Homo sapiens: one gene and its partners. The protein of the gene in region 1 interacts with the protein of each later gene in a pairwise test. Each region holds a gene or a part of one and is shown on either strand. Other genes may lie near its edges. The genes, in order: DNM1L, MPC2, MIEF1 and SCG3.

What was found.
Region 2: the proteins of DNM1L (region 1) and MPC2 interact in binary tests that used the Homo sapiens proteins (3 or more experiments, as listed by UniProt).
Region 3: the proteins of DNM1L (region 1) and MIEF1 interact in binary tests that used the Homo sapiens proteins (3 or more experiments, as listed by UniProt).
Region 4: the proteins of DNM1L (region 1) and SCG3 interact in a two-hybrid assay, tested with the Homo sapiens proteins (one study listed by BioGRID and IntAct).

What each region holds. Positions count from the first base shown.
Region 1 is NC_000012.12:32,682,294-32,689,328, forward strand, and holds part of DNM1L (dynamin-1-like protein), read left to right. Parts: intron 1-7,035. UniProt on the Homo sapiens protein: Functions in mitochondrial and peroxisomal division.
Region 2 is NC_000001.11:167,916,142-167,920,074, forward strand, and holds the end of MPC2 (mitochondrial pyruvate carrier 2), read right to left. Parts: coding exon 3,838-3,933; intron 2,219-3,837; coding exon 2,182-2,218; 3' UTR 534-2,181; downstream 1-533. UniProt on the Homo sapiens protein: Mediates the uptake of pyruvate into mitochondria.
Region 3 is NC_000022.11:39,505,290-39,512,324, forward strand, and holds part of MIEF1 (mitochondrial dynamics protein MIEF1), read left to right. Parts: intron 1-4,132; exon of another isoform or gene 4,133-4,282; intron 4,283-5,998; 5' UTR 5,999-6,005; coding exon 6,006-6,149; intron 6,150-6,559; coding exon 6,560-6,737; intron 6,738-6,942; coding exon 6,943-7,035. UniProt on the Homo sapiens protein: Mitochondrial outer membrane protein which regulates mitochondrial fission/fusion dynamics.
Region 4 is NC_000015.10:51,676,871-51,684,528, forward strand, and holds the start of SCG3 (secretogranin-3 isoform 1 precursor), read left to right. Parts: upstream 1-4,632; 5' UTR 4,633-4,885; coding exon 4,886-4,967; intron 4,968-5,646; coding exon 5,647-5,699; intron 5,700-6,208; coding exon 6,209-6,254; intron 6,255-6,348; coding exon 6,349-6,564; intron 6,565-7,658. UniProt on the Homo sapiens protein: Member of the granin protein family that regulates the biogenesis of secretory granules. Acts as a sorting receptor for intragranular proteins including chromogranin A/CHGA. May also play a role in angiogenesis.

The DNA of each region.
Region 1 (7,035 bases):
GGCTAATTTTGTATTTTTAGTAGAGACAGAGTTTCTCCATGTTGGTCAGGCTGGTATCCAACTCCCGACCTCAGGTGATCCACCCGTCTCGGCCTCCCAAAGTGCTGGGATTACAGGTGTGAACCACCCCGCCTGGCCTAAGAATCACTTTGAAACTAAGTTTCCTGGATCCTGTCTCCAGAGATTTTGATTTTATAAGCCTGGGTTGGGTGAGGGACCATAGGTGATTCTGATACAGATGGTTCCTAGATCCTAATTTGAAAAACATATTAGTGAATCATTGGATTTTAAAATGCATGATACTGGAAAAAGCAGGAAAATTAGGGGAGGTTGAATCTATGGCATACTACCATCCAGTACCATGCTGACTTTGGTGGCATTCTTGCTTTAATATATCACTTCCCAGGCAACCATTGCTGACCCCTAAATGTTTTAAACTTTGGTTTTATGAAATGCCCAAGTAACACTCATTTGGGGGCTAGGGACTTGGAGGAGTGGAGGTGAGGGAATCCTGTTTACAGCTATCAGTCATTCACATGTTTTATGTGTTAGCTAAATAAATTGCTTTTATTTTTTCTAGTAGAGACCATCTGTGTGAAATGAACAGACACAGTGGGGAGAGAGAGAAGGCTGATGATACTTTTAGACCATGGTGTAACTTTGCAAGTAGAGGAGATAAGACTTAAAACAACTTTTGTGACTCAACTTGGGAAATTTAATCCTATTTCTTAAATTAAGAATTGGAAAGGGGAGCCCTCCAGGTATGTAATCTAAACTACCACCCAATATAGGTATCCGAATACAGATGACATTAACCTGAGACTCTGGCTTAGTGTTCCTAGTAATGTACTTTACACTTTTCCTTTTATTTCAGTGATTTCAGCATTCTATCTTCAGTAATTCAGACAAATGTAAAAGGAAAAACAATTTGGATTTTTTATTTTTATTTTTTTAGGGTCTGGCTCTTTCACCCAGGCTGGAGTGCAGTGGCATAATCCATAGCTCACTGTAACCTCAAATTCCTGGGCTCAAGCAGTCCTCTTGCCTCAGCCTCCTGAGTAGCTGGGACTACAGGCACGCATCTGGCTAATTTTTTTTTTTAAATTTAAAATCGCTGCCTTACTATGTTGCCAAGGCTGGTCTCAAACTCCTGGGCTCAAATGATCCTCTTGCCTTGGCCTCCCAAAGTGCTAGGAGTATAGGTGTGAGCCACTGCACCTAGCCTAAAAATAATTTGGATTTTATTTTATTTTATTATTTATTTTTTTAGAGATGGAGTCTTGCTCTGTTGTCCAGGCTGGAGTGCAGTGGTGCGATCTCAACTCACTGCAACCTCCGCTTCCCGAGTTCAAGTGATTCTCCTGCCTCAGCCTCCTGAGTAGCTGGGATTACAGGTGCATGCCACCACGCCCAGCTAATTTTTGTATTTTTAGTAGAGATGGGGTTTCACTGTGTTGGTCAGGCTGGTCTCGAACTCCTGACCTCATGATCCACTTGCCTTGGCCTCCCAAAGTGCTGGAATTACAGACATGAGCCACTGTGCTCGGCCTAATTTTTGTATTTTTAGTAGAGACAGCATTTTACAACGTTGGCCAGACTGGTCTCAAACTCCTGACCTCAAATGATCTGCCTGCCTCAGCCTCCTGCTGGGATAACAGGTATGAGCCACCATGCCCGGCCAGTAATTTGGATTTTAATTTCTAATTTGCAAATCAACTTTTAAAAATTTAACATTAAAAATACTGAAATATTCATGTAACACAAAATTCACCCTTATAAAGTATACACAACTCAGCAGCGTTTAGTATGTTCACAAAGTTGTACCACCATAGTGTAATTCCAAAATATTTTCATTACCTGAAAAAGAAAACTCCTGCCCATAAGCAGTCACCCCCGTTTTGTCCTCCCCCAGCTTCTGACAGGTTTTGATTTTATAAGCCCCACGTGGGTGAGGGTCCATCGGTGACTCTGATACAGATGGTTCCTAGATCCTAATTTGAAAAATATATTAGTGAATCATTGGATTTTAAAATGCATGATACTGGAAAAAGCAGGTATCACTGGCAACCACTAATCTACTTTTTGTCTGTATGGATTTGCCTATTTGGGATATTTCACATTAGTGGAATCCTATAATATGTGATTTGATCTTTTGTGCCAGGCATCTGTTGCTCAACATAATTCTTTTTTTTTTTCTTTTTTGAGACAGAGTTTTGCTCTGTTGCTCAGGCTGGAGTGCAATGGCACAATCTCAGCTCACTGCAACCCTTCACCTTCCGGGTTCAGGTGATTCTTCTGCCTCAGCCCGGATTACAGGCGCGTGCTACCGCACCCAGCTAATTTTTTTGTATTTTTAGTAGAGACGAGGTTTTGCCATGTTGGCCAGGCTGGTCTCGAACTCCTGACCTCAAGTGATCTGCCTGCCTCAGCTTCCCAAAGTGCTGGGATTATAGGCATGAGCCACTCAACATAATGTTTTTTAGGTTCATCCATTATGTAGCATGGCAGAATAATAAATATTACATTGTATAGATACAGCACAGTTTATTCATCAATTGATGAATTTTTGGGTTGTTTCTATTTTTTGGCTATTATGAATAAATAATGCTCTGCGAACATTCGTTTACAAGTTTTTGTGTGAATGTGTATTTTTTTTTTTTTTTTGAGATGGAGTCTCGCTCTGTCACACAGGCTGGAATGCAGTGGCGTGATCTTGGCTCACCGCAAGCTCCGCCTCCCGGGTTTACGCCGTTCTCCTGCCTCAGCCTCCCGAGTAGCTGGGACTGCAGGTGCCCGCTACCACGCCCAGCTAATTTTTTGTTTTTAGTAGAGACAGGGTTTCACCGTGTTAGCCAGGATGGTCTCGATCTCCTCACCTCGTGATCCACCCGCCTCGGCCTCCCAAAGTGCTGGGATTACAGGCGTGAGCCACCGCGCCCGGTCAGTGAATGTGTATTTTTGATTCTCTTGGGTATATATCTAAGCGTAGACTTGCTGATTCATATGATAATTCTTACGTTTAACTTTCTGAAAAACTACCAAAGTGTTTTCCATAGTGGCTGCACCTTTTTTTTTTTTTTTTTTTGAGACAGGGTCTCACTTTCTCGCCCAGACTGGAGTGCTGTGGCGCTATCTTGGCTTACCGCAACCTCTGCCTCCCAGGCTCAAGGCGTTCTCCTGCTTCAGCATCCTGAGTAGCTGGGATTACAGGTGCCCGCCACTACTGCCCGGCTACTTTTTGTATTTTTAGTAGAGGCGAGGGTTTCCTTATATTGGTCAGGCTGGTCTCGAACTCCTGACCTCAAATGATCCACCCACCTCGGCCTCCCAAAGTGCTGGGATTACAGGCGTGAGCTGCTGCGCCCAGCCGTGGCTGCACCATTTCACATCCCCTCCAGGGTTCAGGTTTCTGCACATCCTTATCAACACTTGTTGTTATCTTTTTTTTTTAAGCGCTAAATCATTCTGGAATTCTTTATTTGAAAAACAGCACTTTTTGACACCTATGCCATTTCCTTCTCTTATGGACAACTTTTTTCATAGTTTGATGTCCCTCTCTCTTTTTTTTCTCCATGAGCACTGCTGTCTACATTTTAGCATTTATTGACTATAATTTAATTCCTGCTTATGCATTGTTTTCTTGTGTTCTTAGATAAATTTATGTTTTTCTCTTTTTTTGTATAGATTATGAGCTGCTGCTTTTTTTTAACTTAACAAAATTGAGGTGAAATTTGCAGAACATAAAATTAGCCTTTTTTTTTTTTTTTTTTTTTTGAGATGGAGTTTTGCTCTTGTTGCCCAGGCTGGAGTGCAATGGCGCGATCTCGGCTCACAGCAACCTCCACCTCCCGGGTTCAAGTGATTCTCCTGCCTCAGCCTCTCAAGTAGCTGGGATTACAAGCATGTGCCATGCCTGGCTAATTTTGTATTTTTAGTAGAGACAGGGTTTCTCCATGTTGGTCAGGCTAGTCTCAAACTCATGACCTCAGGTGATCCGTCCACCTCGACCTCCCAAAGTGCTGGGATTACAGGTGTGAGCCACTGTGCCCAGCCAAAATTAGCCCTTTTATAAAATGTATAATTCAGTGTCATTTAGTGCATTCATAATGACATCTCTGTCTAGGTCCAAAACAATTTCATCACGAAAGAAAACTACTATTGAGCTGTCACTCCCTCTTCTTTCTTTTCCATTTAATGGCTGAGTAATATTCTGTTATATGTATAAACCACATTGGTTTATTCAATCACCTATTGATGAGCAATTGGGTTGTTTCTGCCTTTTAGCTGTTGTGAATAGTGCTGCTGTGAATATTGGTGTACAAGTATTTGAGTACCTGTTATCAGTTATTTTGGTATATACCTAGGAGTAAAATTACTGGGTTCTATGGTAATTTTGTTTAACTTTTTGAGCAACCACTTTTCCACAGCAGCTACACCATTTTAAAATTCCCACCAGCAATGTTTGAAGGGTGCAGTTTTTCTGTATCTTTGTCAACATTTGTTATTATCTGTTTTTGATTATAGTCATCCTAATGGGTGTGAAGTTTTGTTTTGCATTTCCCTAATGACTAATGGTGTTGAACATCTTTTCATGTGTTTGTTGGGGTTGTCTTATTGTTGAGGTTGTAAGAGTTCTTTTTTTTCTTTTTTTTTTTTTTTTTTTGAGATGGAGTCTCGCTCTGTTGCCCAGGTGGCCAGGCTGGTCTTGAACTCCTGACCTCAGGTGATCCGCCTGCCTTGGCCTCCCAAAGTGCTGGCATTATAGGCATGAGCCACCACACCCGGCCTTGTCTTTTTGCTTCCTTGTTAGTGTCCTTCAATACACAAAAGGTTTTACTTTTGGTTAAGGCTAATTTATCTTTTTTTTTCCTTTTATTGCTTTATGGTGTCATATCTAAGGCATTGACAAATCCAAAGCCGTGAAGATTTTTTTTTATTTTTTAATGTTTTTTCCCCTAATTATTTTATAGTTTTGGCTTGTATATTTAGGCTTTTGATCCATTTTGAGTACATCTTGGTATGGTATGAGGTAGGGGTTCATTTCATTTTTTTTGCACGTGCTTCTCCAGTTGACCTAGTACCATTTGTTGGAGAGACTGTTCTTTCCCCATTGAATAGTCTTGGCATTGTTGAAAATCAGTTGAGCAAAGATTTTGTTGTTGTTGTTGAGACAGGGTCTCACTCTGTCACCCAGGCTGGAGTGCAATGATGCAGTCTTGGGTCACTACAGCCTCCACCTCCTGAGTTCAAGCGATTCTTCTGCCTCATCCTCCCAAGTAGCTGAGACTACAGTCACCTGCCATCACGCCGGGCTATTTTTTTTGGTATTTTTTTTTAGTAGATACGGGGTTTTGCCATGTTGGCCAGGCTGGTCTTGAACTCCTGACCTCAGGTGATCCATCCACCTCGGCCTCCCAAAGTGCTGGGAATACAGGCATGAGCCACCATGCCTGGCCAGCCAAAGATTTATTATATGGGTTTATTTCTGGATTCTCAGTTCTATTCTGCTTTGATTACTGTAGCTTTGGAGTATATTTAAAATTTGAGAAGTGTAACTTTACCAGCATTGTTTTTCTTTTTCAAAATTGTTTTGGTTGTTTGGGGTCCCTTGTCATTCAATATGAATTTTATTTTATATTATTTTATTTTGAGAGGTAGTCTTACTCTGTCGCCCAGGCTGGAGTGCAGTGGCGTGATCTCGTTTCACTTGCAGCCTCTGCCTCCTGGGTTCAAGCGATCCAACCACCTCAGGCTGCAAGTAGCTGAGATTACAGGTGCCCACCACCATGCCTGGCTAATATTTGTTTTTTTAGTAGAGATGGGGTTTCACCACGTTGGCAAGATTGATCTCAAACTCCTAACCTCAGGTGATCTGCCCACCTTGGCCTCCCAAAATGCTGGGATTACAGGCGTGAGCCACTGTGTGGGCCCCGTATGAATTTTAGATTTGGCTTCTCCATTTCTGTAAACAAGACAGTTGGGATTTTGATGGGGATTGTGTTGCCTCTATAGGTTGCTTCAGGTTTTATTGGCATCTTAACCATTTTAAGTTAGAATTTTTGATGGGGAGGTTTTTTCTTTTAGCACTTTATCTTACTGCCTCTGGCTCCTATGGTTTCTTTTCTCTTTTCTTTCTTTGAAAACAAGTTTATTAAAGTAAAGGAATAAAAGAATGGCTACTCCATAGGCAGAGCTGCTGTGGCCCCTATGGTTTCTGATGAGAAGTCTGTTGTATCTGTTGTTAGTCTTACTGAGGATCCCTTGTTCATGACTCTTAGCTTCTCTCTTGCTGCTTTTAGCATTTGTCTTTGTCTTTCAACAGTTTGATTATAATTTATCTCAATGTGTGTATTTCTTTGTGTTTATCCTGCTTTGAGTTCATCGAGCTTCTTGGATGTGTAGATTCATATCACTTTTTCATGCTTTTATGGAAGAAGTGGGGATTTTCACAGACGATAATTCTGCCTTATCAGATATCTGAATCTCTCTCTTAGTGATCTAGAAAGCACTGGACCTATAGTTTTATAACCAAGAAAAAATTCCTTCCTAAGGACTGTTAGGTCTGCAGTATTTTAGAAAGTTTGGATTTTGGGTATTAAGTTCATATAAGAACACTCTTTTAAGCCAAGTGTGGTGGCCTGTGCCTGTAGTCCCTTTTACTTGGGAGACCTGGTGGCAAGGCTGCTTGAGCCCAGGAGGTTGAGGGCTGTAGTTCACTGTGATTGTGCTGTGAATAGCTGCTGCACTCCAGCCTAAGCAACATAGTGAGACCTGGTCTCTTAAGAACAAAAAACACCCCACATATTAACTACAAATTATGAAGTGGTTTAAACTTCATATTTATATTTTGTCATTAGGTAGAGGGTTTGAGCTATATGGTAGAAACATTGTAGTTTAGCTATTTTATTTTATTTTATTTTTGAGGCAGAGTTTCGCTCTCGTTGCCCAGGCTGGATTGCAATGGCGTGATCCTGGCTGACTGCAACTTCTGCCTCCTGAGTTCAAGTGATTCTACTGTCTCAGCTTCCCGAGTAG
Region 2 (3,933 bases), on another chromosome or scaffold:
AATAGTTGTGAAACTGATAACTAGGCTATGTGTTCCAAGTGGCAATGAGAGTTTTTGACAGGATACATATTGTTACTTTTTGAGATGGGAGTTTTGCTCTTGTCGCCCAGGCTGGAGTGCAAAGGCGCGATCTCAGCTCACTGCAACCTCCGCCTCCTGGGTTGAAGTGATTCTCCTGCCTCAGCCTCTGGAGTAGCTGGGATTACAGGCGTGCGCCACCACACCCAGCTAATTTTTGTATTATTAGTAGAGACGGGGTTTTACCATGTTGGCCAGGCTGGTCTCGAACTCCTGCCCTCAGGTGATTCACCTGCCTTGGCCTCCCAAAGTGCTCGGATTACAGGCGTGAGCCACCGCACCTGGCCAAGATTTAATTTTTAAGATTAAAAAATTGGATAGATTAAGAGTTTTGGGGCAGAAAAGAAAAGAAGCATGTGATGGTTGTTTGTCAATGAAACTTCTGAGAAACAAGAAAGGAGGACTGCCTATGATTGTATCTAAATGCTACAACAAATTTGACTGACAAGAGGGGCTTAGGAGACCCCGCACAGAAGAGGTTTTAATGAAAAGGAAGTGAAACACCAAGCTCACATAAATTTTTAATAAACTTTTTTGTGTCTATGTCATATTTCATAATGTTTTTCCTAAATGCTTAACCTAGGAAACACATGTGTGCACACCCATGCCAAACACACAAATGAATTTAACAGTGTGGTTTATGAAATGAAAGCAATAATAGTTTGACTCTTCAGAACCTCTTCATTGTGGCCTATGTCAAGCTCTCTAATCTTTTCTCCTCAATGGTAGGCCATGGTTAAGGGACAGATGATAAAGTACAAGGTTTTCAATTGCTAACTGCCAAATTTTCATAGGTTATAGTATTACTCAAAAAGTTGTTTTGTCTCATTTCTTCAAATTTTGAAATAACTTGCTTTGCTGACTCATCTGACTATATTTTTAATGAGGACTGGCTTTATTAGCACTTTTAGAAAAAAAGCTCTGCACTCCACACTGAAAGTCAAATCAAATAGATAGTTAATTATTTGTAGCGTGGAGTAATGTATGCTCAGTCTCTCCTCACAACGGAGCCAAAGGTCACAAACATTTACAGAAAACCTACTTATGTCCCAGGTACTCTGCTAGGTACTTTCCTAACTTGTCTAAAGTCACAGCATAGGCTGGGTATGGTGGCTCATGCCTGTATTCCAGCACTTTGACAGGACGAGGCGGGCAGATCACCTGAGCCCAGGAGTTCGAGACCAGCCTGGGCAACATGACAAAACCCTACCTCTACAAAAATACAAAAATTAGCTGGGTGTGGTGGTGTGTGCCTGTAGTCCCAGCTGCTCGGGAGGCTGAGGCAGGAGGATCACTTGAGCCCAGGAGGTAGGGTTTGCAGTGAGCCGAGATTGTGCCACTGCACTCCAGCCTGGGCCACAGAGCGAGACCCTGTCTCAAAAAAAAAAAAAAAAAAAAAGTCACAACAGATAAGTCATAGAGCTGGGATTCAAATTCAGGTCTGTCTGAATATAGAGTATTTTCTGCTACATTATCAGTTACTGAGGGTAATTGAAAAATTTAACACTTATCATGGACCAGGCACTATGTTAAAACATTATCTCATTAATCTTTACAATGATCCTATTTAAAAATCTGTAGCTGTAAAAGAATTTTATACAACATTTATACAAAAATCATCAAGATTCTTCATGGCAAGTTAAAATGTTTTTAAATAGTTTGAGGTCATCTTGATAGTCATTCCACTACCCATTTCTCAGTCTCTTCAGCAAAATTTCCTTTCACTTATAGCTAGCTACCTGACCATCCTACACTAAATAAGCAGATAATTTAATCTTCCAACTTCTTGAATTTGTGTGTTCTTTTATGTACATATGTTGGCTGACTGGAACAGAAGGAGGCAGGGGGTATATACGAGCAAGTATGGTTTATTACGGACAAATGGTAGAAAAATGTTACTAATATCCATAGATAAGTTCCTTAAGTCATGTAGAGAGACTGTTATTAAAAGTTTGCTGCATTTTTCTATTGAATCAAGAACTAGCTACCAGTTACAGTGCCTTCTAAACACACAGTTAGCTTTGCTTTATCAATAACCAAATAATAAACTAGGTCCCAATGGTTTTGTCCACATCTAGATTGTTCAGGTGATCAGGAACTCTTTTATTTGTGTGCTTTAGCTTTTAGTTCTTGGTTATATCTATAAAGAAAACAGAAAGAAAAATAATCATCAATAATAATAGACAAATTTATGGTAAGGAGAGAATGGGAAGCATACTCCATTTCTTCTTTCTTGGTGGTCAAGTAGCTATACAGTTGTAAACAGAATCTTCCCGGAGGGCTTACAGGTAGAAACAGGCAGAAAGGAAAGGATTCAAAGAGTTCATTTGCATCTGGATTTTGTTTCAGATAATAAGAGCACAACTGCCAAAAACTTTTTTTTTTTTTTTTTGAGATGGAGTCTCACTCTGTCGCCCAGGCTGGAGTGTAGTGGTGTGATCTCGGCTCGCTGCAAGCTCTGCCTCCCGGGTTCACGCCATTCTCCTGCCTCAGCCCCCCGAGTAGCTGGGACTACAGGCGCCCGCCACCACTTCTGGCTAATTTTTTGTATTTTTAGTAGAGATGGTGTTTCACCGTGTTAGCCAGGATGGTCTCGATCTCCTGACCTTGTGGTCTGCCTGCCTCGGCCTCCCAAAGTGCTGGGATTACAGGAGTGAGCCACCATGCCCGGCCTGCCAAAAACTTTTAACAGCTTAGCTGACATATAGTTTCCTGTGCAAAAGTATTATTTTAATAAAAATATTCTCATTCTGGAATTCTACAAGAACGTGACAAACTTGTGAACATATGTATAAAATTTAGTAAAATGTGGTCACCTAGAATTTTAAAATTTATACTCGCAAAGCACCTTTCCTAAGAATAAGATCAACAGGTAAAGTAAAATATACTAAAGTAATCACTAAAGTAAAATATACTTCTAACCACTAAGGTAAAATATACTTCTGTGATGCAGGCAGGCTATTGGGTTAACAGCCTGTAAACACTTAAGTTCACAAACGCTAAGGACCATTTCCTCAATTCTCAATCCAAAGAAGTAACCACAGAGCCATAGTCTTTCCTTCCCTTCTACCATACCTTGGGCTTCATTTACTATTCCTCCTAGCTTATAATGGAATGGAGAGTAGTATAAAAGCATAAGAAGGAACTTATTCCATGAAGCCAACCATACCTCCTAGGTTTCTCAAAAGATCCTGATTTCAAATATTTGATCATAATGTCATTATCATAAATCACTGACAATATTAACTACTGAGTAAATAGTTTAAAAATTTCCAGTGCTCATGGAACACTTTCCAATGAAAGCAAAGACCTCACTCTACGTATCATTTCCAATACTACATAACAATACACTTAAGTTCCAATTTATTATATACAATTGAAAGTGATAAAAGGTTTACATAAGAAATTAATAAATCATAAACTGTATATGTTGTCTTAATAAAAGAGATTATGTGAGATGGTTAACCATCTAAATGATGCACAGTTAAATCTAAAAACTAGGTAACATACTGCTTAACTGATTTTAGTCAGTTAACTAGTTAACTGGTTAACTTATTTGTAAACCCCTAGACTTTTCTAGAAATGTTAAATTTCTACTTTAGATACTTCTTGTCTTAGCATTATATATGAATCTTTTAAAAAAATTAGTGCCATCTCCAGCCTGGGCAACAGAGCGAGACCCCGTCTCAAAAAAAAAAAAAATTAGTGCCATCTAAGTAGCTTTTGCAACAGTTTTAAAAATATCTCTGGTAGGCTTACCTCCAAATACGAAAAAGCTGAGAGGCTCCTGCTGCCCCCACAAAGAAATTAACAGCAAACAGACTCCAATTTTTTGGAATAATTACAAGTGAGTAT
Region 3 (7,035 bases), on another chromosome or scaffold:
TCCTCCCTTCTCAGCCTCCTGAGTAGCTGGGACGCCAGGCATGTACCAATGTGCTCAGCTAATTTTTTATTTATTTATTTTTTTTGTAGAGACGGTCTTGCTATGTTGCCCAGGCTGCTTTCAAACTCTTAGCCTCAAGCGATCCTCCCACCCTTGCCTCCCAAAGCTTTGGGATTATAGGTTCAAACAGCTCTGCCTGTCCAGAAACTGCACTTTGTAGTCTGGAAACTTAAGTCTGATGTGGCCAGCATGGTACCCCTGTAAGGCAAATAGCCAGAGTTGAGGCTGGGCCTGGTCTGGAAGGACGTTGACTCCAAGTTGAGATTGTAATGTATATCTTCTTATGTGGGGACCATCACAGCTCTGTAAACAGAGGAATGACATAGCCACATTTGTATCGTAGAGGGAGCATACCAGTGGCAGTGTGAAGAATAAATTGATGAGAGATACTAGAGGCAGTGGATGTAGCCAGATCAGATTGAGGGACCGAGGGGTGGGGGTGGCCACATATAAACACAGTGTGTACAGCAGTGGGACTTGGTGATCAGTTGGCTGAGGCAGGAGGAGGAGAGAGAAAGATGAAGAGTAACTGGGTGTAAGGCCTGCCAGCTGGGTGGAGGGTGCTGCTTTTAACTGGGGGAGGGAAAGTAGGAAGAGAGCCTTATGTAATGACTTTTGGTTCTTCTCAGCCACTTAGGATTGGCATATCTGCCTTTGGCAGTACAGGGCCAGGGGTGGGGTGATGCCCATGGGAGCCTGTCTGCACAGGGAGGGTTGGCTAGCGGATCTAGGAGGGAATTAGGGCGTTCCTTGAAATCTTTGTGTTCCTAATATATTTTGGCTGTGAGTTGGGCTACACGCTGCTATCACTACCCCCTCAAAAAAACCAAGAAACAAAACGCCGTAGAGTTAATACTTCATTCCCACAACATATACTCCCTATGCATCAAACACTGCACACCCTGGGGATGCAGCAGTGAATGAGCCCAAATGTCCCCCAGAAGCATATGGTCTGGGGGTTAATGGAGTGGAGATGGGAACAAGGTGTGGAGCAAGTACCTAGGACCCCTGTAGATTAGTTCTCCGCACCGCGTGATCTCAGGGTTCAAATCTTGGTCACATACTTTACTGACACAGTGACCTTGGGTCAGTTACAGAAACTACTCAGTTTCTTCATCCTTTAAATTTGGGATAATATTACTGATCTCATGGGATTGTTGTTGTGAGGATTGAGGGAATTAATAATAAGTGTAAAATTGCCAGCACATAATACACACTCAATATCTGCTACCTAGTCTCGTACATACTCAAGCAAGATAGGTTTATAAAAAGGCCTATGGCTTTTTCAATTAAAATAAGTTGGAACTTTCACACTTCTGTGCTGTCATCCTAGGAAGCCGCAAGGCCTCCATTATTCATCATCCTTAACTATATTAGGGTGATGAGCATTTCTGTTCCCATTTTTGTATCTAGCGAGACAGGTTAAATAACTTGCCTGAAATATTGGCAGAGCTGAAATTCTCCATCCCTAGTTCTGCCCACCAGGTCTGTGTTCCTTCTTTGTTTTTTATTTTAACCATCTTAACCATTTTAAAGTGTACAGTTCAGTAGTAGTAAGTATATTCACATTGTTGGGTAACAGAGCCCCAGAACCCTTTTCATCTGGCACATCTGAAACTCTGTACCCATTAAGCAATGGGGTTCCTTCATGACAGTCCCGATTGGAGGTGGAGTTCTTACCTGCTAGTAGGCTGTAAGCTTATGCAGCAGAACCTGAGTGGAGAGCGTGTCATGGAGAAGCAGTTTAAACTGGAACAAGTTGAATTAACTTTTCAAGTAAGGTCCGTGTCTGTCTGTTGAGCTTGTGGATGCCGTCTTCTGTTCCAGGTCACCAGGTCTGTGATGTCAGTCCGTCCTTGGATGGTGGGCGGGGGGTGCCTATTGCACTACAGTAGGAAAAGCCTTTTTTTCTTGAGATGGAGTCTTGCTCTGTCACCCAGGCTGGAGTGCAGTGGGTGCAATCTTGGCTCACTGCAACCTCTGCCTCCCGACTTCAAGCGATTCTCCTGCCTCGGCCTCCCGAGTAGCTGGGACTACAGGCGCCTGCCACCACACCTGGCTAATTTTTTGTGTTTTTAGTAGAGACAGAGGTTCACCGTGTTAGCCAGGATGGTCTCGATCTCCTGACCTCGTGATCTGCCCACCTTGGCCTCCCAAAGTGTTGGGATTACAGGCGTGAGCCACCGTACCCGGCCGAAAAGGCTTAACAAGCTGGCCCAACTTAATAGTTTTGATCTCAGCTGTTGGCTCACGCCTGTAATCCCAGCACTTTGAGAGGCCAGGGTGGGCAGATCACCTGAAGTCAGGAGTTCGAGACCAGCCTGGCCAACATGGTGAAACCCTGTCTCTACTGAAAATACAAAAAATTAGCAGGGTGTGGTGGCTCATGCCTGTAATCCCAGCTACTAGGGAGGCTGAAGCAGGAGAATCACTTGAACCTGGGAGGTGGAGGTTGCAGTGAGCCGGGATTGCCCCACTATACTCCAGCCTGGGTGACAGAGTGATACTCAGTCTCAAAAAAAAAGAAAAAATAGTTTTGATCTCAAGTCCAAGATGGCATCACTGCGAATTTTCAAGGCCGTTTTAGAGCAGTCTCAAAAGGTGCACTGTCACTCAGAGGACAGTCTGGGTTGCTGACTGACTTCTGGAAGCTGACCTTTGTCCTGTGGATGGAAATCTTAAAAGACTAGAGGAGAACTCATTTGTGGAGCACTTTTACAGTTTATAGACCATCCACTGCAATACAGTTTATACCGTTCACATACAGGATTGCAGTGAATGGTTTTTCCTCACTACAACCCTGTGATTTGGTCCCACGCGGGGACCATTATCCCCTTTTCGTAGCTGAGGTGTTAAGTAACTCATTTGAGGTCACCCAGCTAATAAGTCAGGGCTCAAGGCAAGTTCTGTATCTCAGGATTTCTGACTCTAAAACCCACGCTCTGTTCTGTCATCTGTAGCACCACCTTGCTCTCACCAGTCATCAGAAGGGCACCAAGGACTAAAATGGTCCAGGGAGGCTGCTTCTGCCCTGAGTGAGGAGGTGCCCTTCTGGCCCTGCTGCATCACACTCAAGGATCATTTAGAGGGCACATGTGTCCAGTGGCTCTCCCTATTGTAAATATTTCAGTAAAGAGTTAAAACAAGAGACATTGTTATGTGTGGGGAAATGTATAGTGTTCTGCTTTTCTCCTGATTGGGTTATCTTGCCTCTGCTAAGTTTGGTTTGTCCCGTCTCTATCTCAGTGGCCACTGGAGAGAGGGTGTCTGCTGTTCTTCCCTGATTCCACCTGTAAATACAAACGTTATCTCTTCTCCCTGGCTTTGCTCTGTGCATTTGAGGTGGGAATGTACTCGGTTTGGCGAAATAGTCTTTCATGTCCCTAAACCTGAAGCCTCTATTGACTGTAAATGGTAGAGAAAAGGAAAGTACCCCCAAGGTGTGAACTCTAGTTAGGGAAAAAAATATTTTTGGGCTTGACAGTGACTCTTAGTTAACTCAATTACTGGAATAATAGAGTCAGAAATATTTCTTTGTTTTTCAGGGAGGTAGAGGCAGGAGCGTAAGATGTGGAAGCTAGAAATATCCACTTGTAACACGGTATTAGAAGGAATGTTATTTTACATGGAAGATAATCCTCAGTGATCCTTTTTTTTTTTTCTTCAAGACGGAGTCTTGCTCTGTCACCCAGGCTGGAGTGCAATGGTGATTCTCCTGCCTTGGCCTCCCGAGTAGCTGGGATTACAGGCATGCACCATCATGCCTGGCTAATTTTTTGTATTTTTAGTAGAGATGGGGTTTCACTATGTTGGCCAGGCTGGTCTTGAACTTCCGACCTCGTGATCCACCCACCTTGGCCTCCCAAAGTGCTGGGATTACAGGTGTGAGCCACCGCGCCCGGCTGATCCTGTCTCTTGATGTCCTCCCATTCTGGGACGCTAAATGGTATCCGACTTTGTTTTCCCTTATGTCATTCCTGGTGTGAAGGACACGGGATATTATAGAGGAGAGTGGCAGCATGCTGAGTGGTATTCCGATCTGAATCACACTGTCATCCTTTATCCGGCTCAGGCCCAGGGTTCTAACTCCACAGGAATGGGCTTATCTGGGGACTGCTGCTGCTGCAGTCAGGAAGACTCCACTGTAGTCGGGAGCAGCACTGGCCTGAGCACTGCACTGGAGGCCAGCCTCTTCGCTGTGGTGCCCAAGTACTTCTTTCAGGTGAACACATTTTTAGTTCCTCTTCCAGGTGTAATCGAGCAGATGGGTGTTTTGTTTTCCAGTTAGCAGTCGAGTCTGCAGTGTCCTTTGTGTTTTTTATCTCCCGGTATACCAGTCTCACCTAAGCTTTTATAGTCCCCGCTGCGCACTTCTCTCAAGAAACAAAGCATTTGTCAAGTAGGAGGGTCCATGGAGGGACCTTTCTCACATATGGACGTGTAGTTTCAGTTCCGTGTGCAGGATGTTTGGTACATGTTGTTTTGTGTTTTGTTTGCAGAAAGTAGATAGAATAAGGGCCGATTTGATTTGGGTAAGGGTGAGCATGGTACAGTAGAAAAAGCGTCATACAAGGAGTGGGGAGTCCTGAGTTCTGGAGATGACTGTGTCGTTTTGTTTTCGTTTTTGAGACGGAGTTTAGCTCTTGTTACCCAGGCTAGAGTGCAATCGTGTGATCTCGGCTCACTGCAACCTCCGCCTTCCGGGTTCAAGGGATTCTCCTGTCTCAGCCTCCTGAGAAGCTGGGATTACAGGCATGCGCTGTCACATCTGGCTAATTTTATATTTTTAGTAGTGACGGGGTTTCTCCATGTTGGCCAGGCTTGTCTTGAACTCCTGATCTCAGGTGATCCGCCTGCCTCGGCCTCCCAAAGTGCTGGGATTACAGGCGTGAGTCACCGTGCCCGGCCCATTTTGTTTTTTTATTTTTATTTTTAAGAGATGGGGTCTCACTCTGTCACTGAGGCTAGAGTGCAGTGGCGTGATCATAGCTCACTGTAGCCTCAAACTCCTGGGCTCAAGCATTCCTCCTGCCTCAGCCTCCTAAGTAGATAGGACTACAGGCATGTGCCACCATGCTCAATTTATTTTTATCTTTTACTTTTGGAGATGGGGGTCTTGCCATGTTGCTCAGGTTGGTCTTGAACTTCTGGCCACAAGCGATCTTCCCACCTCAGCCTCCCGGGTAGCTAGGATTATAGGCATGAGCCACTGCGCCTGTACCATTTCTTTTCTCTGAGACCTGACACATCACCTCCCTATGTTGAGAACCTCTGTGTGAGGTGATGTGATGGCATTAGATGAGCTCCAAGGTCCCGCTCAGATCTAACCTTCCACAAAGTAGTGGCCAAAGGACGAAGAAATGACCTGCATTATAACCCCTGTGATGGGGTAGAGAGACCTGCTTTATAACCTCTGTGAAGGGGTAGAGAGACCTGCATTATAACCCCTGTGAAGGGGTAGAGACCTGCATTATAACCCCTGTGAAGGGGTAGAGACCTGCTTTATAACCCCTGTGAAGGGGTAGAGACCTGCATTATAACCCCTGTGAAGGGGTAGAGACCTGCATTATAACATTGTGAAGGGGTAGAGACCTGCATTTTAACATTGTAAAGGGGCAGAGAGAGGGCTGTTTTGCATGGTGGGGTACTTCATTGTAATACAAAAAAGGACTGACACTGAGCTTAATGCTTTCTTAATCTCACTAGCTTGGGGAAAGTTTTCCTACAATACCCAAGATCAGCCCCTCCTCCTTGCATCCTGATCTATCATGGGACATTGTAGCTCCCTCCAGACCCTAAAGCATGCAGTGCTGGAGGCAAGAAGATTTGGGTTGCTGGAACTCACAGAGTACCCTGTACTTGTTGGGGTTTGGCTTGTTAGGGGAGGGAGGTTCTTGGGGTCCCAGTACTTATGGCCGTGTTCTGTCTTCATTCTCAGATGAGCAATGGCAGGCGCTGGTGAGCGCAAAGGCAAGAAGGATGACAATGGCATTGGCACGGCCATTGACTTTGTGCTCTCCAATGCCCGGCTGGTGCTGGGGGTGGGTGGAGCGGCCATGCTGGGCATCGCCACGCTGGCAGTTAAGCGGGTAAGTGCATGCAGCCAGGGCTGGGGGTGGAATGTAGTGGTATGGTCATAAGATGTAATGTTTTATAGAAAGAAAATGTCGAAGCGTTCTAGGAGGAAATGATCGCAATGATAAGTGAAAAAAACAGGTTTCAAAAGTATGTATAGAGTGATCGTCATTACATGCATCTAGAAAGAAACATACCAGATATTACAAACAGTTTTCTCTGGGTCATGACGTGGATTATCTATGTCTTATATCATGTAGTCTTCCCTGAGATTTTCTGCGTGGAGCAAAGTATTCTATAATCTAAAATAAAAACAAAATTACTAAAAGAACTTACTAGGACAGAGCTTCTGGGGAGGAAGTAAATTGGAAGGAAATAGGGAAAGAGGGCAGGTTTATGTCCTGTGTCCTCTCTGCTATTTCAGATGTACGATCGGGCGATCAGTGCCCCTACCAGCCCCACCCGCCTGAGCCATTCGGGGAAAAGGAGCTGGGAAGAACCCAACTGGATGGGCTCCCCACGACTGCTGAACAGGGACATGAAGACGGGCCTGAGCCGGTCCTTGCAGACCCTTCCCACAGACTCCTCCACCTTCGACACAGGTGAGAAGGGCTGCTGCCCCTCCTGGGACCTCTCTGGACTTTCAGTACCACTCCTGCACTCAGCAGATGTTTCCTGAGCACATCTGTGCCAGGCACTGTGCCAGCACTTGCCCTCCATGCCAGGCCCTTCTTTCTGGGGCTGAGGCAGCTGTGGACTGAGCAGGCATGGGCAGAGCTCACGTGCCTCTCTCTCTTGCCTTGGCAGATACATTCTGCCCGCCCCGGCCCAAGCCAGTGGCCAGGAAGGGCCAGGTAGACTTGAAGAAGTCACGACTCCGCATGTCCCTGCAGGAGAAAC
Region 4 (7,658 bases), on another chromosome or scaffold:
TATTTATTTATCTATTTATTTATTTATTTATTTTGTGGGGGTAGGAGAGATGGGGTCTCCCTATGTTGCCCAGGCCAGTCTCAAACTCCTGGACTCAAGAGATTCTCCTGCCTCAGCCTCCTTAAGCGTTGGGATTGCAGGCCTGAGCCCCTGCGCCCAGCCACACACACTTTCTATAATAGGAAACACATTGCTGATAGGCAACCTGATATTTTCACTCAATAATGCTAATTCATTTTAAATACTATATTTAATGGTGTCATGTGCATCTGTTGTTTTCTGTTTACTTTATAGCCTCACCCTGATTCCTTCTGGGAAGCCATTCTACCCTTGTGGTTCTGGAGTGAACACTCAAACATAGTTCTTGCATCTTCCTCCTATGCCCCCAGGGTAGGTGACTGACCCAATCTGGTTCAACTATGGTACAAGCAAGATAAGTGAACAAGACAAGTTTACTACTTTCTCCTCCTACCCACTCTCAGATTTATTTCTGGCACCTTTCAGTCTGTAGGTGGCCTATATGATCTTGTCATTTGGGCCCACTTTCCTTATTCATGTGCCCTTTTCTTTTCATTTCCATGCCTTCACTTTCCTTAAGTCTTGTTATTTGCTCATTTACATTATTCTTTGTTATTTCAACTTTCCTCTGATGGTGAATTTCTAGATTTCACATTTATTTCTCCTTTCGTCTATATCAGCAGCCACCTCTAGTGCTGGCATCCTGTGTCAGTCTCTTTCACAGCAACAGATCCATTCCTATAACTCTGTAACTGCAAGGGCCTTGCCAGCTCAGGCTCTCTATTCTTAGCCCTTTCATGAACATCTCTTCTGTGAGACTACGCCTTTGTAATGAAAGTGCTGAGTGGAGAATTGTCCTGACAGTGTCAAGATCCTCCAATGTGGGATAGCCATCATAGCCTCAGGATTTGAAGACCAAAGGTAAACAGGAAACCCCCCATCCCTTCATTTATTTAAGCAGATGGATTTCTAGACACTGTAAGAAGGGCTGAGAAATCAAAGATGAGTGAAACAAGATCCTTTCCTTGAAAAATTCACAGTCTAGTGTGGTAGAAAGCCAGATATGTAAGCATGTAATCACAGTGAGAGATATAATTTTATAAATATATGTGTAAAGTTTTCTTAGAAAAAATGTGCAACAACAGGACATACCCCTAAAGTTTGCATTGGTTATCACTATCAGATATTTCCCCTTTTTCCTTATCTGTATTTTCGGAAGTTTTTCCTTCAATATGTATTTATTATTTTGGAAATAAGGAGAAAGAAAGCATCTACACAAAGCAGCATATGGGATATATGCCCAACTGGGAGTGTGCATGGTATCCTGAGGAAGAAATGATCTCATCTAGGAAGTCAAAGAAAACCTTGCAACATCTGCCCTTCCATTCTTACTCATATGTGTCTCTCACATGTCAACCAAATGCAATCGTGGTTCAAGTAAACCAACTGTAAAAATATTTACAGTATGAGGCAAGAGGGGGAAATTTGAATCTGACTGGATATTTGATGATACTATGGCATTATTATAATGAGGAGGAGGTATGTTAAAAGCATTGCAGTAACATTAGAAAAAATAATCCTTATCTTTTACATAAATATACTGACATACTTTGACATACTTATGGATGAAATGGTATGAAGTCTGGGTTTTTGTTGTTGTTGTTGTTTGTTTGTTTGTTTGACAGAGTCTCTCTCTGTTCACAGGCTGGAGTGCAGTGGTGTGACCTTGGCTCACTGCAACCTCCACCTCCCGGGTTCAAGTGATTCTCCTGCCTCAGCTTCCCAAGTAGCTGGGACTACAGGCGCGTGCCACCACGCCCAGCTAATTTTTGCATTTGTAGTAGAGACGGGGTTTCACCATGTTGGTCAGGATGGTCTCAATCGCTTGACCTCATGATGAAGTCTGGGGTTTTTAATGGATAAACAACTCATTGGGGTATGAAGTGGACGGAAATATAGAATAAAAAGAATGGTCATGAGTTAATGATAATTGAGGTTGGGTAGTGGATTCATGCATGCTTATTTCAATATTTCCTCTACTTTTGTGCTTGAAATTTTCTATAAAAATACAATAATAATTAATATATTTTTTCTGTAATAAATGAAAGCATCCTACAAATGTCTCTACCTTCAAGACTCAGCTCAAAAATAATATTCTCCACTAGTGAATGAGCGCACCACAATTGTTCCATTTGTGTTGACAAATGAACAAGCAGCATTGACAAACTCACTGTGCATTGTACATTGTTGATTTAATAATTATCTGATCTGTGTCAATGTTATTTGTCTTGTAATTTCAACATATATTTTCATATTATTCCATGTTTATAGTGTTCTCACACATAAGAATCAAATATTTTAATCTTTTTATTATTAATAAAAGGGCTGTCTTCTCTTTGAAATCTTTCCTGACCATTCATTCCATTATTTGGACAGACTCTACTTGAGCTTTGCAAATACAAAAAGGACACATAACACTCTCTTGTACTTATTCATTCACTTATATTTCAATAAGAATAGTGTGTTGCATGTGAAACCTGTTCACCAAATAGTTGTTGTTATATTCACAATATTTTCTCTCTACTAGGCTATAGGACTAGCAGTGACTAGTGTCTTACTTGTCTTTGTACACCCAGCAACTATCTCAATACCTGGTACATTTCAGATGCTCAATAAACACCTGTTAAGTGAATTGATGAATAAATACAATTTAGGATTACTCCATTCACAGACCTATACTAAGTCCAGTGGTATCATCCATAAGGCTGAATAATGTAAACTAATTCATGCCTATGTTTTACTCAATGCTCCACCACTCATTTGATCAGAAACATAACATGATCCTAGATTTAGTGTCCATTTAACATAATCACTTTAAGTCCAAATGGCAGAAAGAGACAAAATACCCTTTTTCTTTTGGGCAAGCAATGCAATGTACTCAACAGACATCCCTGACCTTCATCCCATCCTGAATCTCTCCCAATTGCAAACATGTATTGAGGAGATAAATGAGTCAGGAATGGGACAAAGGACAAAGTGAAGCTGAGGGATTAGGTCAGTGAGTCTCAGGATCAGTGAATGGCTATTTCAGATAGCGTTGGGTAATGTTTCATAAAAGCTGAAAACGTTTCATGACTTATTTTCTTAGGCTGTATCAAAATATTCTTGGTATCAAAATGACTAGTTCAAAACATGTACCCATTTGATCTTCATAATAACAGTGTGAGGTAAACAGAGCCTGTCATTTCCATCATAAAGAAAAGGAAACTAAGGAAATATACCCTTCATTCAGCTGGGATTTTAAAATATGACTTAATTTTTTAATGCAGTATACTGGGATAATAATGCTATGTTATTACTGCCAATAAAGAGTTTTTTGTTTTGAAGGAGCTGTTAGATTTAGAATACTCTTTAGATCCTCAAAGGAAGTATTTGAGTGACTTCCAAACTCAAAAACCTCCGGAGCAAGGGAGATTTGTTTGTCAGCTTGGTTGTTTGTTTGTTTTTAGGTACTTGAATAACTTCCTCCTTGAAAAGGAGGGTGCAGAAATCAAAGGCCTGATTGTGCTGAATCCTTCTCTTTGGTCATTATTCAGACTGGTTCCCAGCATGCCGCAGTCCAGAGGAAAAGGTCCAAGTTCTGTTTAAAAATCAGAGACTAAAGAGCTTACTCAGCATCCTGCTCACATTAATGTTGCTTGTTTTCATCATTTAAAGTCTTTTGATAGTTCCTTGTATACAATAACCTTAGGCTTCTGGGAATATTCTCAGAACATAGGAAGCACCTCCCTGACTTAGTAAAGATGAAAAATGCTTTTCATGACTATCCCCTCTCTTGAAGGACCCCCTGGAACAGCCAGGTCTTTGGGCATAATTAAATTCTGGGCAAGATTTTACAGAAATGCAGCTTCTTTTTTCTAATTTAGTTGTGTGGTGTGTGTGTGTAAAGTGGGGGAGGTTCCACTTGGTGGGGAAAGGAGAATTTGCCATTGCTGCTCGTCTACTCAGGACTGTTTCTGTTGTTGTTGTGTTTCAGCATCAGAGAGTGAGAGTGTATTGCAGCAATCTGACTATTTGGAAGACTGTTCCTTGAATTTCCCAATTCAAAAGCCTCGGTAGAGCTGAGGGATGCTTGATACGTCAACACAGACCACAAAAGGCAGGGCTTTTCTAAAGAGATTATAATTATATCTACCTTTTGGGTACAGGAGGTGAATGGAAGGAAGGGATTCTGGAGCAGATATCCCAAAAGAAGAATCCCGAAGCAGAACTCCTCGCACAAGGTTATCTAAATCTCCTTGACAGGTGCACAGGCAGAGAAGGCATTTGGCCCTTGAAGTAACATTTACTTGAGAGGTTGGGACAATTCTGTCACGCTTAGGACAAGCCAGCTGACCCTGAGCCCAGGAGCACCCTAGGACTGCAGCACAGAAAATACACCAGCTGGCCGGTCGCCCCTCCTTTGTTCCATTCCCGGGGGATTGGAGTAGCGTTGGAGTCACCGACGCCATCCCCTCCCGCCTCTGGCGTGCATGGAGCATGCGCTTCCTTCCTCACTTCCTCTGCAGGAGGGAGCGAGAGTAAAGCTACGCCCTGGCGCGCAGTCTCCGCGTCACAGGAACTTCAGCACCCACAGGGCGGACAGCGCTCCCCTCTACCTGGAGACTTGACTCCCGCGCGCCCCAACCCTGCTTATCCCTTGACCGTCGAGTGTCAGAGATCCTGCAGCCGCCCAGTCCCGGCCCCTCTCCCGCCCCACACCCACCCTCCTGGCTCTTCCTGTTTTTACTCCTCCTTTTCATTCATAACAAAAGCTACAGCTCCAGGAGCCCAGCGCCGGGCTGTGACCCAAGCCGAGCGTGGAAGAATGGGGTTCCTCGGGACCGGCACTTGGATTCTGGTGTTAGTGCTCCCGATTCAAGCTTTCCCCAAACCTGGAGGAAGCCAAGGTATGTGAACACTTTTCTTCTTCCTACCTTCCTTTTATTTCGCCACGAAAAGGTAAAGTTTGGCATAATACGTGAGCTGTAAATCACCCTGACGCGTTTTCTGATCAAATCATATCCATGAATACGGACAGAGAAATCAGTTCGAATTTAGAGACAGAAGACAGATTTTTTTTCTTCACTTTTAAAATGATAGAGCAATAATATGGGTTGTTTTTAAAGATCTTATTTTGAAAAGGGAAGGGAACCTTTTTCACCTAAAGTGGCTTGGATTGTTTTCTAGTTGCCTTACAACCTTTCTCAGACAGTCTATTCATTATATATGCAGTATATGATGAAAGAGCTTTTAGTGTGCCAATAATACCAATCCAAATTATGCTCTCTCTAGCTGAGAATAGCTGATAACCCTAGTGTTAGAACTATATGTTAAATTTCTGGTCAGAAAAAAAAAAAAGTGTGATTCTGTCAGCTCAAGAAATACACCAAGATAATAAACAAGGCAATATTGATAATTACTATTATTGTATAATCTTGATAATCTTTGTTAATATGCATTTGTTTCATAGTCATCCAAAATTATTTCTCCTAATATTTTTCCTTTTTATAAAAATTTTATTTAATAAGAGGCATATTTTGTCCTTCAACGCACAATTAAATTTATATTCACATGTGTTTATTCTAGACAAATCTCTACATAATAGAGAATTAAGTGCAGAAAGACCTTTGAATGAACAGGTAGGTCAAAAGTAACATTATGAATGCTATTTCATTTTGATTTAGTTATTATTATTTAATGTAATTATGCTGTGACATTTTGGTCATTTTGAATTTACAAACATCAGGAACTTAATAGTTAATTGACAGAAATTAGGACGGGAAATCTAGTTTTGGTAAATTCTATGCCCTAGCAGTTATTTACATTGAGTTCTGTATAATGAATACATAGAGTAACTATATAATAACCCAGTAAGCTCAGCATCACATCCACTCTGTTGTAAGATTGCCTAATTTACCAGAGATTTCTCTTTCAACAATATTATAGGAGAAAGAAATTAACACTGACTGAGCATCTACCCTTAATTTTATCTCATTTAATTATTATAACAGTGCTCTGAAATAGGAATTATCCACATTTTACAAACAAGACAATTAAATCCCATGGAGATTAAATCATTTGGCTCTTGTACTTGGTAAGTAGTGGAGCAATGATTTTAAACCAAGTCTATCTCCTGTTTGCTTCACAGATTGCTGAAGCAGAAGAAGACAAGATTAAAAAAACATATCCTCCAGGTAAAAAGAAATCATATTGATGTTAATTTAAATAATGTAGGCTATGAGAATCTGAACTAAAATGGCTGTGTTGGGTTTGGGGCTATTCTTCCAGAAAACAAGCCAGGTCAGAGCAACTATTCTTTTGTTGATAACTTGAACCTGCTAAAGGCAATAACAGAAAAGGAAAAAATTGAGAAAGAAAGACAATCTATAAGAAGCTCCCCACTTGATAATAAGTTGAATGTGGAAGATGTTGATTCAACCAAGAATCGAAAACTGATCGATGATTATGACTCTACTAAGAGTGGATTGGATCATAAATTTCAAGGTAAATGAGAAAAAAAGAACTTTTTGTTAACGTGGAGTTTCCTATAATGGGTTAAGAGAAAGTCCAATATTTTAAAAATATCTTTTAAACATTCATAATCCTTTATTAGTCAAGTCCAAAATTGAGATAAAGCATATATTTACTGATAACATGTAGAGCCCCAGCTCCACAGAGTGCCATATTTTATTTTCCCTTTAAAAATTCCTTTAGTGATGCTCTGAAAACATTTTTTAATCTAGTATTTGTATTTTATGGTATTAAATTCATTTGAACATTCAGATTTATTTTAACAATGAGTACACACAAAATATCATAATTTTCAAATAATTAGATCAGTAAAGTACCCTCCCACCCTGCACAAAAAAGGTGAAATATCCACTATTTCCTTTTCAGTGTTTCCTCCTAGCCATATCTTTTCTCCTTAGGTCATCCTAACCTTTACGTGGCTTCAATTACATCTATATCCTAACATCCCATATCACTAGGCCAGACTTCTCTTAGCTATAGACCTATTTATCTGTTTACCTATTCGACATTTTCCCTTGGCAGTGTCAGAAGCACCTCAAATTTAGCATGCCCATGATTAAACTCATAATCTGTGTCCACTTCACAACCTAGACCTCTTAGAGTACTGTTTCTTTAGGAAAGGCACTACTATCCATCCAGTTTTTTAAAGACAGAAATCTAGGATCAAACTATTTATCTTTTCCCTCACCTCTCAAATTCTAATCTGCCAAAACTTACTAATTTTATGTCTGTGTATCTCTCAATTGTTTTTCTCTGTACTTGTCCAAACTCCAATCCTTGTCCAAGCTCCAATTATGTCTCATGTAAACTATAGCAAAATCTACAGTTCTCCCAGCAACCACTCCGCCTCTCCCCAACTCATTCTTCATTTGGCAGCCAATGTGGTAGTTTCCTTACCCGAAGTCAGGAGTTCAAGACCAACCTGGCCAACATGGTGAAACCCCATCTCTACTAAAAATACAAAAATTAGCCAGGAGTGGTGGTGGGCACCTGTAGTCACAGCTACTTGGGAGGCTGAGGCAGGAGAATCACTTGAACCCAGGAGACAAGGGCTGCAGTGAGCCAAG